Linked DNA regions of Homo sapiens: region 1 is linked to region 2. Evidence: fine-mapped expression QTL. Tissue or cell type: thyroid. Region 2 holds a variant in brackets; the other region holds the start of a gene. All regions are shown on one strand. Distances are between the middles of the regions.

The links. PIP is the estimated chance that this variant, and not a neighbour inherited with it, causes the effect.
Region 1: it holds the start of RILP, and the variant in region 2 is fine-mapped to the expression of RILP in thyroid (GTEx, PIP above 0.99).

What each region holds. Positions count from the first base shown.
Region 1 is chr17:1,645,806-1,653,895 of GRCh38, forward strand. It overlaps RILP (Rab interacting lysosomal protein), which reads right to left and starts at 4,061. Exons shown (of 8, transcript NM_031430.3): 1 at 3,772-4,061; 2 at 3,607-3,700; 3 at 3,395-3,501; 4 at 2,994-3,239; 5 at 2,545-2,690; 6 at 2,030-2,152; 7 at 1,101-1,184; 8 at 345-814. The coding sequence starts at 3,999. The coding sequence ends at 637. PRPF8 (pre-mRNA processing factor 8) reads right to left here. Exons shown (of 43, transcript NM_006445.4): 38 at 7,972-8,090; 39 at 7,737-7,878; 40 at 5,843-5,983; 41 at 5,609-5,748; 42 at 5,303-5,505; 43 at 4,824-5,151. The coding sequence ends at 4,997. RefSeq lists a silencer at 3,370-3,664 and an enhancer at 5,298-5,808.
Region 2 is chr17:1,677,411-1,685,500 of GRCh38, forward strand. It overlaps PRPF8 (pre-mRNA processing factor 8), which reads right to left and starts at 7,457. Exons shown (of 43, transcript NM_006445.4): 1 at 7,370-7,457; 2 at 7,062-7,172; 3 at 6,123-6,291; 4 at 4,719-4,883; 5 at 4,410-4,628; 6 at 4,068-4,280; 7 at 3,519-3,644; 8 at 3,316-3,421; 9 at 2,199-2,389; 10 at 1,881-2,000; 11 at 1,607-1,796; 12 at 1,352-1,471; 13 at 1,108-1,242; 14 at 155-284. The coding sequence starts at 7,161. The variant C/T (reference allele first, on the strand shown) is at 3,203.

The DNA of each region.
Region 1 (8,090 bases), 32 kb before region 2:
GGCTGCCACGAGGCACCTCCCTGAGAGGGAGGGGGTGGCTGGAAAGACTGACACTCAAAAAAAGAAAGGGAAAGAAAGGCAATGGCAGGGCTGACTGGCCTGGGCCTGGAAGGGCCAGAAGAATGAAGTTGCAGGTCCCTGGGTGCCGGGGCCAGGGAAGGGGGTGGACTGAGGCTGGGAGCCACGGCTTTCCATCAGGCCACACTCCCAAAGCAAGGCCTGAGCTGCAAGAAGCCACCCCACCCAGTGACTGAGCAAGGAGACCAGCGAGGACCCCTCAGCCTGCCTCTGCTCCTGGCAGGGTTGGGAGGTGGCACAGACATGGACAGACAGGCGAGGAACAGTTTCTGTGTATTACGGGCAGTTCTTTATTACATGAGCTCAGGCCGTCTGCACAAAGCCCTGGGAGCTAGGCAGTCAGCTCTCATTTCATGGATGGGGAAACTGAGACTCAGAGAGGCACTCTTATATCTGGCCCCAGAGGCTCGGTACAGAGACGTAGAGAGGGAGGCGGGCTGAGACCCCGTCCTGCCCTGATGCAGGCCAGGATTGGGGCAGACCCCTGGCGAGGGCTGTGAAGGCGGGAGCCCTGTCCTCATTTGAGGCCACACATCCTTCCACAGCCAGACCCCTAAGTCAGGCCTCTGGGGCGGCTGAGGCCCCCAGACAAAGGTGTTCGTGGAGGGCAGAACAGGGCGGATCAGGAGCTGGAGACTGTGGTTGGGCCTCCTCTTCTCCCCCTAGCTTGCTGGGTGCAGGGCTGCTGGTCTCATCCTCAGAGGATTCAGCTTTACCCCGATACCATAGGCCAAAGCTGGAGAGAGACAGCCAGAGGCACTTTGAGCCAGGAAGCCAGAGAGGTCAAGGATATGGGTGAGGGCAGGGGATGGTGAGAAAAGGGGAGAGGGGGAAGAAAGGGCAGCCTGAGGGAGTGTGAAGGTGATGGGGGCCAGGGCCAGAGAAGCAGGAGGGGACGGTGTGCTTAGAGCCAAGCACAGCAGGGTGACGGGCAGAGAAGCGGGAAAGGGGATCCTGAGAAGGACCAGCCAGGGCCCTTCCTCCCTCCCCACACTCTTGCCTTTCCCCTTTCCCCAACATACAAACTCTGTATTTTGGACTCCGGGGGTGGGGGATGGTCTCCCTTGTCATCGGAGAGCAGGATCCATGGGCCAGCCTCATCCTCACTGAGACAGAGGAGAGAGGAGAAGTGAGGGCCATTGATCAAGGCCCTGAGGGACAACAGGAATCCAGCAGGGGGGATGGAGGGACTGCAGGGCCCCCGGGGCTGGAGAGAAGGCAACCCTGGGGAGATGCAGGATGTCGAGCCTTTAATTTTTAATTTTTTTTTTTTTGAGACAGGGTCTCACTCTGTCGCCCAGGCTGGAGTGCAGTGGTGCGATCTCAGCTCACTGCAACCTCCGCCTCCCAAGTTCAAGCGATTCTCCTGCCGCAGCCTCCTGAGTAGCTGGGATTATAGGCACATGCCACCATGCCCGGCTAATTTTTGTATTTTTAGTAGAGACGGAGTTTCACCATGTTGGCCACGCTGGTCTCGAACTCCTGACCTCAGGTGATCTACCCACCTTAGCCTCTCAAAGTGCTGGGATTACAGGCGTGAGCCACCGCGCCCTGCCAAGGGTTTATTTTATAGCTTGACACACAGCAGGCCCTGACACAGCCGCGGCTACAGTTTCACCCCCGTAAGAATAAACAGACCCAGCCAAGACAGGAACTTGAAGAATGAATGTGGAGAGGCAGTGTTGTCAGGCAGAATGGATGGCAGGCAAGGCAAGGGGAGTGGTGAGATCCAGGGAGAAGGGCGCAGGCTGGACAGCGGCCATGGGACACAGCCAGAGCAGGTCAGCAGGCCCTAGAAGCGGCCAGGCTAGGGAGGCTCAAGGGGTGACCGGGTTGGGGTGACAGCCTCAGTCTGAGACAATGGGCTCAGAGGGTGACCAGGCTGGGTCATCAGGCTCAGCAGAATGAGGGAGGGAGGCCTGGCTCCGTGGGAATGCAGGCAGGGACCTACCTGCTCTCTGCTTCCTCTGGTGTCCCTAACATCTTGGCCTTGATCTTCTTCCGCTGCTTCCGGACAGCCACCTTCATGGCCTCGAGCAGAAGGCCGGGGACCCGGTGGTCTGTGAGCAGCTCCCTAAAGAAAAGGGGCAGGGAGGGAGAAAGCCCTGGTGATGCCAGCCATGGGGATGCCAGCAGTGGAGATGCCAGCCGCAGTCCTCACTCCTGGTACCTGTGCACGCAGCTCTTCCCTGAACACGGGAAGCGCTCTGCCTTGCTGACACCCTCAGACCTTAAATTAGGTGGCCCCGTGGCCCCCTCCTAGGAGAGATTCCCTGGCTGCTGCAGCTGCAACCCTTTGTACTGTCCCTCTCCCCTGTCTGGATGACATTGCAGGAGGGCAAGGGCTGTACAATTCATGTCCTCCCAGTTCCCAGCGCAGGCCTGGCACATGTCACTGTGGACATGTCAATGACTGGAGAATGAGGTGGGGTGATCGGAGGCCCCCCGGCTTCCCAGCGTCCTCACCGCTGGAAGTAGGCCAGTTCCTCCTTGAGCAGGAACACTTTGGCTTTGAGTTCATTCCGCTCCTGAAGGATCTGCTCAAACTCCTCCCGACTGAAGCGGCACTGCCCTGCCTCCGAGGGGCGCCCGAGCTGCTGCGCGGCCTCCGCCTTTGGAAGGACAGGCACAGTCAGAGGGTCGCCTCGGCTGGCGTTCCCCCGCCCCAGGGCCATCATGGGAATGCTAGAGGAAGTGACGGGCCGGGAGACTTGGGGGACAAGGGTGCCCTAACAGATAACAGAGCAGTGCTCCAGCTGAGAGCGGGGGCCGAGGCCGGCCGGGGGCGCAGATCTGTCTGCCACCTCCCCGCTTCCTGGCCGACCTGCTGTGCAGCATGCAAACCTTGCTTGAGTGCCCACCGAGGGCTGGACGCTGCGTCCTGGGCTGGGTCCTTGCCCTCATACGGCACTCACCGGGTCCTCAGGGTTCCCTGGGGCGCCTGCGCCGGCGGTCGCCCATTCGGGCTCCTGTCCGTGCTGGTGCCCGGGCCGCCCGGCCTGCCCCCGCGCTCGCTCTTTAGCCTGCGGAGTCGCGGCTTCGCCAGGCTGCTGGCGCTCCCTCTCGCGGTCCTGCGCGGCGCGCAGCTGGGTCTGCATGGCCGCCAGCTTGTGCCGCAGCTCAGCGTTCACCAGCAGGAGGCGCTGCAGCTGCTCCTGCAACTGGGAGCGGAGCAAAGGGTGGGGTGGGCGGGGCACCGAGGGCCCCCCGGAGCCCCGCCCAGCGCCTGCCTCGCTCCGCCCCCGCCCCCGGAGCCCCGCCCAGCGCCTGCCACGCTCCGCCCCCGCCCCGCCCCAGAGCCCCGCCCCGCCCTCACCGCCTCGGTCTCCTGGCCGCGCTGCCGCAGGTCGCGGTTGTGCGCCCGGAGTTCGTCCCGCTGTCGGTCCGTGACCTCCTTGAGCTGCCGCAGCAGCGCGCGCTCCTCTGAGGAAGGGGCGTTCTTAGCGGCGGCGGCGCGCGGCCCGCGGGAGGGAGGGGAGGACCCGAGCAGGTCGTCACCCGCCCTGCCCTGGCCGGGGCTGCGCTTACCCTGTGGCCCCGCGCGCAGCTCCCTGCGGAGGCGCTCGTTCTCCTCCCGCAGCCGCCGCAGCTCCTGCTCCGCCGGCTGCGCCGACACCTGCAGCTGGGGAGACCCGGGTCTCAGGCTTCGGCCCTGCCGGCCCCGTGGGTGGCGAAGGGAGGGCCATGACTCACCGAGTCCGGGGCGGGCCCCACGGCAGCCTGTTCCAAGAGCTCCAGCGCCCGCACCACTAGCGGCACCAGCCCGGCCGCCGCCTCCGGCCCGAAACGGCGCGCCAGATCCTGCAGCTCAGTGCCCAGGGCCCCGGCTAGATGGTACACAAGCTCCGCGGCCGATGCCGACCCCGCGGCCTCCCGAGACCCCCAGCCAGGCACCCCGGGCGCCGCCCTCCTGGGCTCCATGTCTCCCAGAGGCTTAGGGCTGCGACCCCCCCACCCCACCCTCCACTGGGACGGGGAAAAGCGAAACAGTTCCGCCCCAGGAAGCCGTTTAGGGCGGTGTGGGCGGGGTAGAAGCGATAAGGGTAGGGAGGAACGAGGAAGGGAGAAGGCGTGGGGTAGGGAGATAGTGCCCTAGGTCGCCTGGGCTCTGTCCTTTCCACCCCCAAGGTCACAGGAAACAAGACAGCCAACTTCCAGCCAGGCGTCCAAGAGCTGAGGTTCAGGGCTGCAAGTGGTCACTTGAGTGGAGCCCTCCCCACAGGCCCAATCCAGGCTCCGCCCGTTTGGAGTCATGGGGCCAACTTGGCAGTGGCCCGCTCCAGGCGAGAGGTGACAGGTAGGCAGCCGGTCTCTGGCCTCCGCCCGGCTGTACACAAACTGCCTGCCTGTGTGCTTGTTTTCCTGACCAGGACTGACACAGAAAGCTTAAAGGGCTGGGCTGGACACCGCAGCCGCTCAGCACAAGCCACAGAGTTCCTAGACCCGGGAAAGGGCAACTGCTCCCAAAACTGTGGAAAGGAGGCGAGAGCTTCCAAGTAGTTTTGTGGAAAAAGCAGCAAATGTGGTCAAGGCAGCGGAGTGTGAAAGCCCAGCCCTGCCTCAGGTCTCCACTGAGTCCAGGGGCTATCTACCCCAAAGCCCTGAATAGGAAGGGGGCCTCATACTCCCCCCTTCACAGCCGAGCCCAGCATCTTGCTGTGAACCGCTCCAGTCCAGCCTCCTGTTAGACCTAAATCCAGAATTTGAGTTTGGGGGGGAAAAAAAAAACAAACCAGCCCCTGAACTCCTATTTATACAAAATTTATTATTATATTTTATTCAGGATGACAAGCCATCAGGAGGTCAACAACACAAGCACAGACAGAGGGAAAGAGGCCAAACTGCTGAATGTCAGCGGCCTGTCTGGAGGGGCTGAGGCTTCGGCCTCGGGAGGCTGAAGCAGGAGGCAGGGAAACGGTCAGGCATACAGGTCCTCCCGATCCGCAGAGTAAACCTCCCCCTCCTGCAGGAGAGCAAAGTTGAGGAAGTGAGAGGGCCTGTGCACCTCGTGGTAGAACTCTTTGGGGTTCGCCAGCTGTAGCTCATATTTCATGTTGGGGTCATGCCGAACACCTTCGGGGAGAAGGAAACAGCCAATGTTAACAGGGCTCCTGCCTCATGCAGCCTGCGCCACCTCCAAGCCAGCCAGGCCCCAAGTGCAAAGGGCGATGGCCTCACCTTATCCCTACTGCTATCCCCACATCCCCAGGCTCCTCCCACTTACCCATGAAGTTGTAGTTCCACGAGGACTGGGCAGGGACCATGAAGAAGCCAAGGAAACGGTCCGACAGCAGCATCTGCACCCTCTCATAGTGTGAAGGCAGGTAGCCCTTGGGGTTGTTGCCCTTGTCTGTGTTCTGGCGGCCCCATTCGTAGCCACTGGGGGTCAGCTTGTAGGCCGTCAGTGTACAGGAGCCTGGCGTGAAGCTGGGGGAGGAACGAGGACAGAGTAACAGCTCAGGCCACTGTTCTGGGCCCTGGCCTGCAATCCCTGCCCCACCATACTTCCTCCCAAGGAGCCCAGGCCCACCTGCATGTGATGATAATGGTCTTCTCGCCATCCCAAGATGGGTTGTCAGCCATGATCTTGGCATGGGTGGTGACATCCTGGGGTGATAACTGCGGGGACTCATTGGGCTGAGTGTGGATCCAACCTAAGGGTTCCATCTCCTATAGGTAAAGAGGAGTACAGAGCTGAATCCCATCCACAGACAGGAATCGCACCAGCTTTTCCACACTCCCAGGCTCCATCACTCCCCATTACCTTGAGGTACTCATGCTGGGGCAGCTGGCCAGGCAGGTGCACGGTCTGGTGAGTGCCCCACTGCGGCACCATCACAATGCAGCGGATCTCCTTCACCTGGGGGTTATCTGGTGGGCTCACCCCATATAGGTATCCTGCAATCTGGAGACAAAGGGGTCAGGAACCAAAACTCTTCTTAGTACCAGGTCAGAGTTGGAGCTGCCAGCCCTCTGTTTCCTTCCTTCCCCCAAGAACGAGGACAGAGTTTCTTAAAACGTGATCAGAACCCCCTGTATCAGAATCAGCTGGGGTGCTTGTTCAAAATGTTAGACATGGACCTCATCGCGGACTTACCACATCAGAATCTCCTGAGTGGGGTCCAGGAATCTGCACTGCTCACAAGCTCCCCAGCTGATTATTAAGCATAGTATTCACAAGCAAATGAGCACACATGCAGCTCAGTGTATTTTCACAAGCTGAAAACATCTGGAAAACCAGCACTTGGTGCTATTTTAAGTTTTACATTATCACCAAGAAAGAAAGAGGATCTGTTTACTATAAACTCACCCACACAGGATATTAACAATCTTTTCAAATTTGCCAACCTGACAGCCACTAAATAGTGGGTTTGAGATGGAGTCTCACTCTGTCAGCAAGGCTGGAGTGCAGTGGTGTGATCTCAGCTCACTGCGACCTCCGCCTCCTGGGTTCAAGCAATTCTCCTGCCTCAGCTTCCTGAGTAGCTGGGACTACAGGCACATGCCACCATGCCCCGCTAATTTTCATATATTTAAGAGAGACGGGGTTTCGCCACGTTGGCCAAGCTGGTCTTGAACTCCTGACCTCAAGTGATTCACCCACCTTGGCCCAAAATGATGTTTTATAAACTATAATATCCCTGATACACTAGTAAAGTTATGCATCTTTTCTCTTTTTTGAAGCAGGGTATCACTCTGTCACCCAGGCTAGCAGGCAGTGACATGATCTCAGCTCACTACACTCACCACCCTCCAGGATCAGGTGATCCTCCCACCTCAGCCTCCTGAGTAGCTGAGATTACAGGTGTATGCCACCATGCCTGGCTAGTTTTTTTTTTTTTTTTTTGTAGAGACTCCATTTCGTCATGTTGCCCAGGCTGGTCTCGAACTCCTGGGCTCAAAAGATCTGCCCACCTCGGCCTCCCACAGTGCTGGGATTACAGTCATGAGCCACTGTGCCCAGCCTGGAGTGCAGTGGGGTCATCAAAGCTCACTGCTTGCGTTCAAGCAACCTCATCCTCCTGAGTAGCTGGGACTACAGCCACGTTTTTTTTGGTTTTGTTTTTTTAGACGGGGTCTTGCTCTGTTGCCCAGGCTGGAGTGCAGTGATGCAATCTTGGCTCACTGCAAGCTCCACCTCACCTCCCGGGTTCAAGCAATTCTCCTGTCTCAACCTCCCTAGTAGCTGCAACTACGGGCGCATGCCACCATGCCTGGCTAATTTTTTGTATTTTTAGTAGAGACAGGGTTTCACCATATTGGTCAGGCTGGTCTCAAACCCCTGACCTCAGGTGATCCACCCACCTAGGCCTCCCAAAGTGCTGGGATTATAGGCATTAGCCACTGTGCCCAGCCGAGTGTTGGGATTACAGGCATGAGCCAGCACGCACACCTGGTCAGGAATTTGTTTCTGACCATATCTGTTCTCTTCCAAATACTATCAGGCCAATACTACAATTACTACCTTCTCTCAGCTGCCACAGCTTTTGCTATCTCATGGGGCCAAAACCCACCTCGTTGTTTTGGCTATCCTTGTATAATTACTCATCCATGAATCTTGAAACCAGCATCTCAAGTTCCAGACAATCTCAGGTCTGAGTTTTAGGCACAAAATGAGTTGGGCACACACTGTGGCCTAGCTGAGTCCACTTACTCACTTGGGCCCGAAGGTCAGATATGCAGATGAACTTCTTAAGCACATTCTTGGGAAGGATGTAGGTGTAGCCAGTCTCCTTGATGTCGTCAGATGAAACATAGATGTGATTGGTCCTTAGGTGCAGGTTGGCAGCAGAGATGGCCCTAAAAACAGGCAGGGAGTGTCAGCATCGCTCAGCCCAGCACCTTAGGTAGTGCAGCCGGCCTTTCCATCCCCACCCTCTTGCCCGACAGTACCTGACCCTCCACTCAGTCTTGGATGAGAAAGTCTGGGTCTCATAGTTGCTGGTGGTGGAGGTGATGATCTCATCGCCATGCTTGTTGACAGTGCGAGTCTGTGTTGCCGTCAGCTGCGA
Region 2 (8,090 bases):
GAAATAGAATACTAGGTCAGACTCATTTCAGAACTGGACCTAAAGGCAATCCAGTAGGAAGAGTGCTCATACAAGAGCAGGGAACAGACTCAAACAGGGGCAGGTACTTTTGAAGCAATAACAGGAGAAGTTGGACACAGAGAAAACCACTCACCTTCAAACTGCCGGGCCAGGAGGTTGCCAAGCCATCGCTCTAATAAAGGGGTAATGCCACGCATGAAAAAGAGCCAGACTCGCCAACCGGCAGCCCAGAAGCCACAGCCAGGACCCTTCCCTACAGGGCCCTACGATCCCAAGCAGAAGTTAAGAATACAAGTTAGCAATGCATTTAAACAACAATAGAAACCTGGGCAGAGGTGGGGCATATATGTATAATATACATACAGAGGAATGTAGGTATGGCAGTAGAGGGGTAAAAAGAAAAAAAAACTCTGGGACCTCAACATCTAAAACAAAAGGGTAAATGAGAAACCTTAAGGCAAAAACCAGGAACTAAGATCGCCCATGTGAATTTAAAGGAGCAGTAAGGACACAGTCATAGCTGCTCTCCAAATAGGTCCCTGGAAAGAGCCCTGTCTAAATGTATACATGAAAAAAGATCTGAGAAAGTTAAGTCCAGTGAGGCTGGGCACGGTGACTCACGCTGGTAATCCCAGTACTTTGGGAGGCCGAGGAGTGTGGATCACCTGAGGTCAGGAGTTCAAGACCAGCCTGGCCAATACAGTGAAACCCCATCTCTACTAAAATTTCAAAAACTAGCCAGGCATGGTGGTGCGCGCCTGTAGTCCCAGCTACTTGGGAGGCTGAAGCAGGAGAATCACTTCAACCCGGGAGGCGGAGGCTGTGGTGAGCCAAGATCGTGCCATTGTACTCCAGCTGGGGCAACAGAGAAAGACTCAGTTTCAAAACAAAACAAAAAAAAAATTGCCAGGCGTGGTGGCGGGCACCTGTAATCCCAGCTACTCGGGAGGCTGAGGCAGGAGAATTGCTTGAACTCAGGAGGCGGAGGTTGCAGTGAGCCAAGATCGTGCCATTGCACACCAGCCCAAGAGACAAGAGTAAGACTCTGTCTCAAAAAAAAGAAAGTCAGTAAAGTCAAGGTCTCACCGTGTTGAAACGATAATAGATGAGATGCTTCAGGTCCTTGCACATGCGAATCTGTCGCATCAGCTTGTATTTGTATCGATACATGCCCGTCAACTGCCCAACATGGGCAAATATATACTGCAATCCATCTGCCAGCTGCAATACAATTGCCCCATCAGACCTGGAGCTTAAACCAGCTCCACGGTCAGCACAGGCTTCCTCCAGCGTCCTCACCCAGGCAGGGGTTGGGAATACCTAACCTTACCTGGAAGGCATCCACATTGCCCAGCCGATACTGCACGTGACTATCCACCACCAGCTTAGTCAAACGCAGAACTTCCCGACACAGGTGGAAAGCATTCCCAAAACGAGATTTCTTTCTTTCCTGGAGAAGATGCAAAAAACAGACAGAACGTGAATGAGCAATGGACCCAACTGATGTATGCCTTCATCAGTAACCAGAGGAAAACAACTGTCCGTCCTTGAAGCCCAGGAGGCCCCTAGGGTCCAATGCAGGCACCTTGGTGGTGAGCGTTTTCACAGGCTTGAGGTTGAAGTTGTAGTCCAGGTGCAGGTAGTTGAGGTTTTTGCGGTGAATGAGAAGGTTGAGCATGTTGTAGCCCTGGCGGCAAACCTGGAGCCCAACCTCCACCCAGTCCAGCTTTGTGGACTGAAAGAATTTGGTGGCTTTGAAGGAGCGGAACAAATACCTGAGGTGGGAACATGGAGAGTAAGAGTCAGCCTACTGATATCTCTGGAACAGAAGTCTGCGCAGGGCCCCTGGGGCACCTTACCTCTTCTTTTGAGCCTTAGGGGGCCGATGCTTCAGGGCATTCAGCACATAGTACTTAAGCAGCTTCTGGTAGGAGACCCTCACTTTCACAGGCTGCCCGGCAGGACAATGCTCCCGATACCTGGAAAAATAAGCCCACCAGAGTTTGGCCATCTCTTCTTCCAGACACTCTGCTAAAGGCTGCAAGCCTTGGGTTGTCTACCATTTTTATGGGAAAAAAAAAAAAAGAATTTAAAAAAAAGGCTACATGCCCACCTAGTTGGAGTCTTTTCTCCTACACATCCACTATCATTCCCCCTGCCACAGGGAAAAACCTTACCAGTTCTTGACAAGGGGTATGTCCAGGGCCCGACGGGTGCGACCAGAGCGTAGGTTGAAGGGCCGCGGGGCCCAGAGCAGGGCAATGCCATTGGCTGTATTGTCTGTATAGAGGGGTGTGTCCTTCAGGAAGGGCTCCACAAACTCCGGGAGCTCAAATTCCTCATCATCATCCGGCAATGGTTCCTGGCTCTGAAAAAGGAATCCCTCTAAGGGTTTAGCTCCTGCTGAACTAGGCACAGACTTAAGATGAGGGAAATTCTCTGGGGCCAAGCACAAAGCCTGTATCTGCTATGGAAACTGGGCTGTCTGACAAAAGCAGCCCTGAAGTGCCAGCACAAAGGAAACCAAGACAGCAAAGAACAAGACAGGGCCACCAGGAAAGCAAGCGTCACTTCTCACACCTCAACTGGCTGACCACCAGAAAGCCTCCCAATGGAGCCCCAACATCACAGGAGGTCAACATTGCAATCATCTCCCACCCAAGCTCCAAACACTGGGCTTGGACACAACGGAACACAGATGAGCATCAAAAACATTATGGTAAGCTTAAGAAGCCAGTCACTGAAGACTACATAGTGTACGATTCTATTTCATTCTATCATATGAAATGTGTAGAATAGCCAAATCTATAGACAGAAAGTAGATTAGTGGTTGCGTAAGGAAGTTGGGGAGAAATGGCGAGTAACTGCTAAGGGTTTCTTTCTCAAGTAATAAAAATATTCTCAAATTGCATGTCGTGACAGTTGGGACAACTCTGAGAATAAGCTAAAAACCATCAAATTACACACTTTAAATGGATAACTTGTATGGTATGTTAACTACATCTCAATATAAAGGCTAAAACAAACAAACACAATAGAGACAGACCGGGACAGATTATCTAGAGCACCCAAGAAAAGAACCGTAAAGTCCAAAAGGATAATCACAGAAAACAGGATTATACCAATGACATGTTTTAAAGCAAATGCTGAATTCTCATATTCGCTTATAGCTCAAGGGGAA[C/T]ACTTAGCAAGACGGAAAACACATCTCCCTCCACCTGAGCGTTTAGTAACATCAGCCAACCTCACGCATTTCTCCTAGAAGAGCTGAGGGAAAGCATCCCTTCCCTTCCTCACCTTGACTGAGTGCCTATGGGAGATTGGGTTGATCAAAGGGTCAAAGTAGAAAGCTGGCAAGTCAGGATCCTCAGTTTTGATGAATACAACATTGGGAGTATGGTACCTAAAATGAAAGGAAGAGTCAGCCAAAGTTTTCCCGCCCTGGCCCAACCTAAACAGCAGCCTTCTCCTTTCCAAATGTTGTGTTCCAGGTCTCTTACCAGGTGAGGTGGACATGGTGTGGAAGATTGTTGTACAAGTAAGGAAAAGCAATCTTGTACTCAGTGCGGATAGGCTGCCGGATGATAATCTTGTTAATATCATTGAATTCATTCCAGTCTTCATCCCTAGGGTACAACATCAAGAATAAGCAGACTTTTTTTTTTTTGAGACAGGGTCTCACTCTTATCACCCAAGCTGGAATGCAATGGCATGATCATCGTTCACTGCAGCCGTGACCTCCTGGGCTCAAACAATCCTCCCACAGCTCAGCTTCCCAAGTAACTGAGACTACACGAAGCTGTGAGTGTCACCACGCCCAGCTACATTTTTTGGTAAAGATAGGGTTTTGCCATTTTGCCCAGATTGGTCTCAAACTTCTGGGCTCAAGCAATCCTCCTGCCTCAGCTTCCCAAAGTGCTGAGATTACAGCGTGAGCCACTGCACCTGGTGTAAACAGACTAATTTGGAAGTTATATCAGGACTTTAAGGATCAAGATTACGTTTCATTCAACTCAAAATGTCTAAAATCCCTAATCTCTCCAACTCACTGTAGGTTGATGTCTCGAACAAGAGGTTCAAATTTGGGGCCTCCAGGAATGGCCATATTGAGTGCCTTGGACGTAAAGAAGGCCTTCAAATCAAACAGGTAGAAGTAGTTGTCATCCACCAAGTCTGTCAGGAGCTGATTAGCCAGGCGGTAGAGAGTCGACATCATAGGTAGTGTGAACTGCCAGCGCTGGTAAGTGGAGCCATTTACATACCTAGGTAAAAAATGAAAGGCCCACCTCAAGTAAGCAGCTAGACAAACCCATACCACCTACTGATCTCCCAGGACTCCTTCTGCATTTCCAGAACTCCTCCCAGGTGTAGTATCTCCATCTATCACTCACTTCCTGCTGTCCCTCAACGGCTGGTGGTCATAGAACCAGTCCAACACAGGGGCGTCCTCCTCAGGGTCCAGCTCTAGCTGAATGGCCTCCAGTGGCTCAACATCTAGGATGTTGTCAGCATAGTCCAAGGGCGGCTCCTCATCATCAAAAGGGGGAAAACGCATCCTCTTGAAATGCCTCCTATCTCTTTTTTCTCGGCGCATCATAATCCACATTGACCTGGAAGGCAAGACATCACACAACCATTTCTACCCACTGCCTCCCAACCACCACCACCACCACCACCCACCATATTTCAGCCTTTCTCACCCCCACTGGGAGATGTAGACAGGTTCAATGACCCAGGGAATCTCATTGACGAAGGAAATGGCTCCAGTGATGTGGTACAGCACAGGCACATCCCGAATCTGCTCCCAAGGCATAGGCATGTTCTCCAGGAGTTTGAGGACTGCGTGGGGCATGTACTTTAGGGCACTGGCACATTAGAAAAAGAGAAGGCTATCAGAAATGACGAGGTGTTCTGCTACCTGTCCCATGCAGAGAAGCCACATGTTCATGTTCCACAGTCCTACCTTACAATCCAAACTCCCAAACTTAGCCCACAGGCCCTTCCTAACCAGAAACCCTGCCTCTCCCTCTCCAACTTCACCTTGCACCACTCTTCTTAAACGTCATAATCCCACAATGCTGGTATCAGCTCCTCTAAATCAACGGCTATCCCTCTGGAGACAGCTTTGCGGCTCTCTCACATCCTATTCCCTCCGCATCTTCCCATAAATCATAATAAAGTATTCACCATACTTCACTATCACCAGTTGTCTCATGTCTGTCAGGCCACTAGACCGCACACTGCAGAAAGGCGGAGATTGTTACCCTCTGCTCGCTACTATATCCCCAGCAGCCAGCACAGTTCTCTAAGTATTTTTTGAAATAAACAAAACTTCCAGTTCATTACATGGCAAACATTTTTGTGTCCAAATAGAACAGGAATCTGCTAAGACATCTGTACCTGTACTAGCCCAGTTTAGAGCCACAGAAAAAACAGGAGTAGGGAAACCTCTGAAATTAAATACCCCAAACACAGAATTCAGGTCCCTGAGGAGCGACAGGCTGCCACTATGCACAGTATCCCACTCTGGACTTCAACCAGCTCAACCATAGGGACATCTTATTTTTCATTTTTTTTTTTTTTTTGAGACGGAGTCTCGTACTTTCGCCCAGGCCAGAGTGCAGTGGTGTGATCTCGGCTCACTACAAGTTCCGCCTCCCAGGTTCACGCCATTCTCCTGCCTCAGCCTCCCAAGTAGCTGGGACTACAGACACCTGCCACCACGCCCAGCTAATTTTGTGTATTTTTAGTAGAGACGGGGTTTCACCGTGTTAGCCAGGATGGTCTCGATCTCCTGACCTCATGATCCACCCGCCTCGGCCTCCCAAAGTGCTGGGATTACAGGCATGAGCCACCGCGCCTGGCCAGGGACATCTTATAATATCATCAACAGGACAAATTAAAGCACCAGTCCCAGATCGGGAAGAGAGGGGAAACAGACTGCAAAAGTGGAAGATGTAGAAATTATCAGAGACTCCTACTGGTTTTCTCCTTTCTCTTATATCCACCAAGATGAGCTGTCAAAGCATCAATCCAAGACTGTGGGACAGGGAGAAGGGAAAAGGGCCAAATTCCAAATGAAATTATTTCAGGATGTTCCTTACCCCAAGTAAACCCTTTTGTCATGGCGGAACTTCCTGTTGGTCATGTCTCCATGGTCTCGAATGATCTTCCTGACATGTTCTGGGGGCATGTCTTCCTTCTGGGCATCCACAAACCCAAACTTCCGCTTTTCTGCATAGCGCTTGGCCTGCAATTGCTGCCATTTTCGAGCTGGAAAGGCACCTCAGTTTAAAGGCCTGCACACCCTCCCCCTAATCCTCTTCACCTCTTGCCCTAGGGTAAGCTCCTGTCAGTGAGTGTGAGGGAGAAGCAGGCACCAGCAGGAAGAAGCACCCCTTGCCAATTCCCTTACCATTTTACTCTGTTTTTCCTTTCATCACATTGATCACTATCTGACTTTTTTTTTTTTTTTTGAGAGGTTGTTTCACTCTGTCTCCCAGGCTGGAGTGCAATGGTGCGATGTCGGCTCACTGCAACCTCCGCCTCCTGGGTTCAAGCCATTCTCCTGCCTCAGCCTCCCCAGTAGCTGGGATTATAGACACGCGCCACCACACACGACTCATTTTTGTATTTTTCGTAGAGACGAGGTTTCACTGTGTTGGCCAGGCTGGTCTCGAACTCCTGACCTCAGGTGATCCGCCCGCCTGGGCCTCCCAAAGTGCTGGGATTACAACCGTGAGCCACCGCGCCCGGCCTGACATTTTTATTACAGAGCTTCAAGGTTTTGTTATTCTCTGTCTCTCCCGCTGTAATTTAAACCCCGTAAGGACAGGAATTTTGTCTCCGTCACTACTGTACCCCCGCTGGATCAGCGCTTGCAAATAATACGCGCTTAAAATGACTTGATGAAAAATTAACTGGAAATAACAAGGGAGCTGACACCTCAGGAGCTGCCCAAACGGGGAGGGTCCCCACCCGCCTGCGCGCGCGCACACCCGCCCCGCCTCCGGCCCGCGCGCCGCTCCACACTCTCGCCTCACCTTTCTCCTGCAGCTTCTCCTCCGACATGTAGTCCGGTAGCGGGGCTAGAGGGCCAGGCACCGGGTTACCCGGCCCTCGATAAGGAAACACTCCGGCCATATCCGGAGAATCTGGGGAGCGGCGGGATAGAAAAATTCACTAACCACAGGCCCGGGCCCACAAGAAGCGCAGCAGAAAGGCGTCCGGGGACCCCGGCCTGCAGTCCCGCCACACAGTGCATCCAGCCCCGCCCGGCCTAACCCCTTCGGTCACTCGGCCCGACCCGACCACGCCTCCCGCAGCCCGGCCTTAAACGCCTGCCACGCACCCCACAGGCCCTCACACAAGAGGCCGCTTTCCCCGCAGCGCAATGGCGGCCAGACTGCGTCCGCTCCGCGTTCCCAGCGCCGGGAAGTGCGCAACCCGAGTTCAGCAGTTGATCCAGTCGGCGCCGAGGTGCTCAGATGGATTAGTGAGACGACCAATTAGAGTTGCACACTGCGCCGAGGAGGCGGGCCCATAGGCGGAAAGGCTTTGAACGCAAGGGGGTGTGGTCGGGGTGAAGCCCCGCCTCCTCCATTTCCGAGGCTGTTTCTGGGGCCTCTGACAGACCTCAGCGTGTGATGGGCTCCCGGCGTCGCACTGTGAGAGAGCGAAGTCTAAAGGGTTTGAATAAATTTGCCAAGATTGCGCATTGTACGATGTCTGTTGTCATCAATGTGTACATGCAATGCAGTACTAGCTCCTGGACAGTCATTTGTTCATGCATTCATTCATTTAACCATCACTGTCTACCGAGGACGAGGGATAAAGCAGGAAAAAAGACAACCAGTAGAGTTCACAGGGGAGCAGAAAGGCAGGCAAGAATTAAGACCTTGGCCGGGCGCGGTGGCTCACGCCTGGAATCGCAGCACTTTGGGAGGCCGAGGCAGGCGGATCACTTAAAGCCAGAAGTTCGAGGCCAGCCTGGCCAACATGGTGAAACCCCGTCTCTACTAAAAATACAAACATTAGCCGGGCGTGGTGGCGGGCGCCTGTAGTCCCAGCTA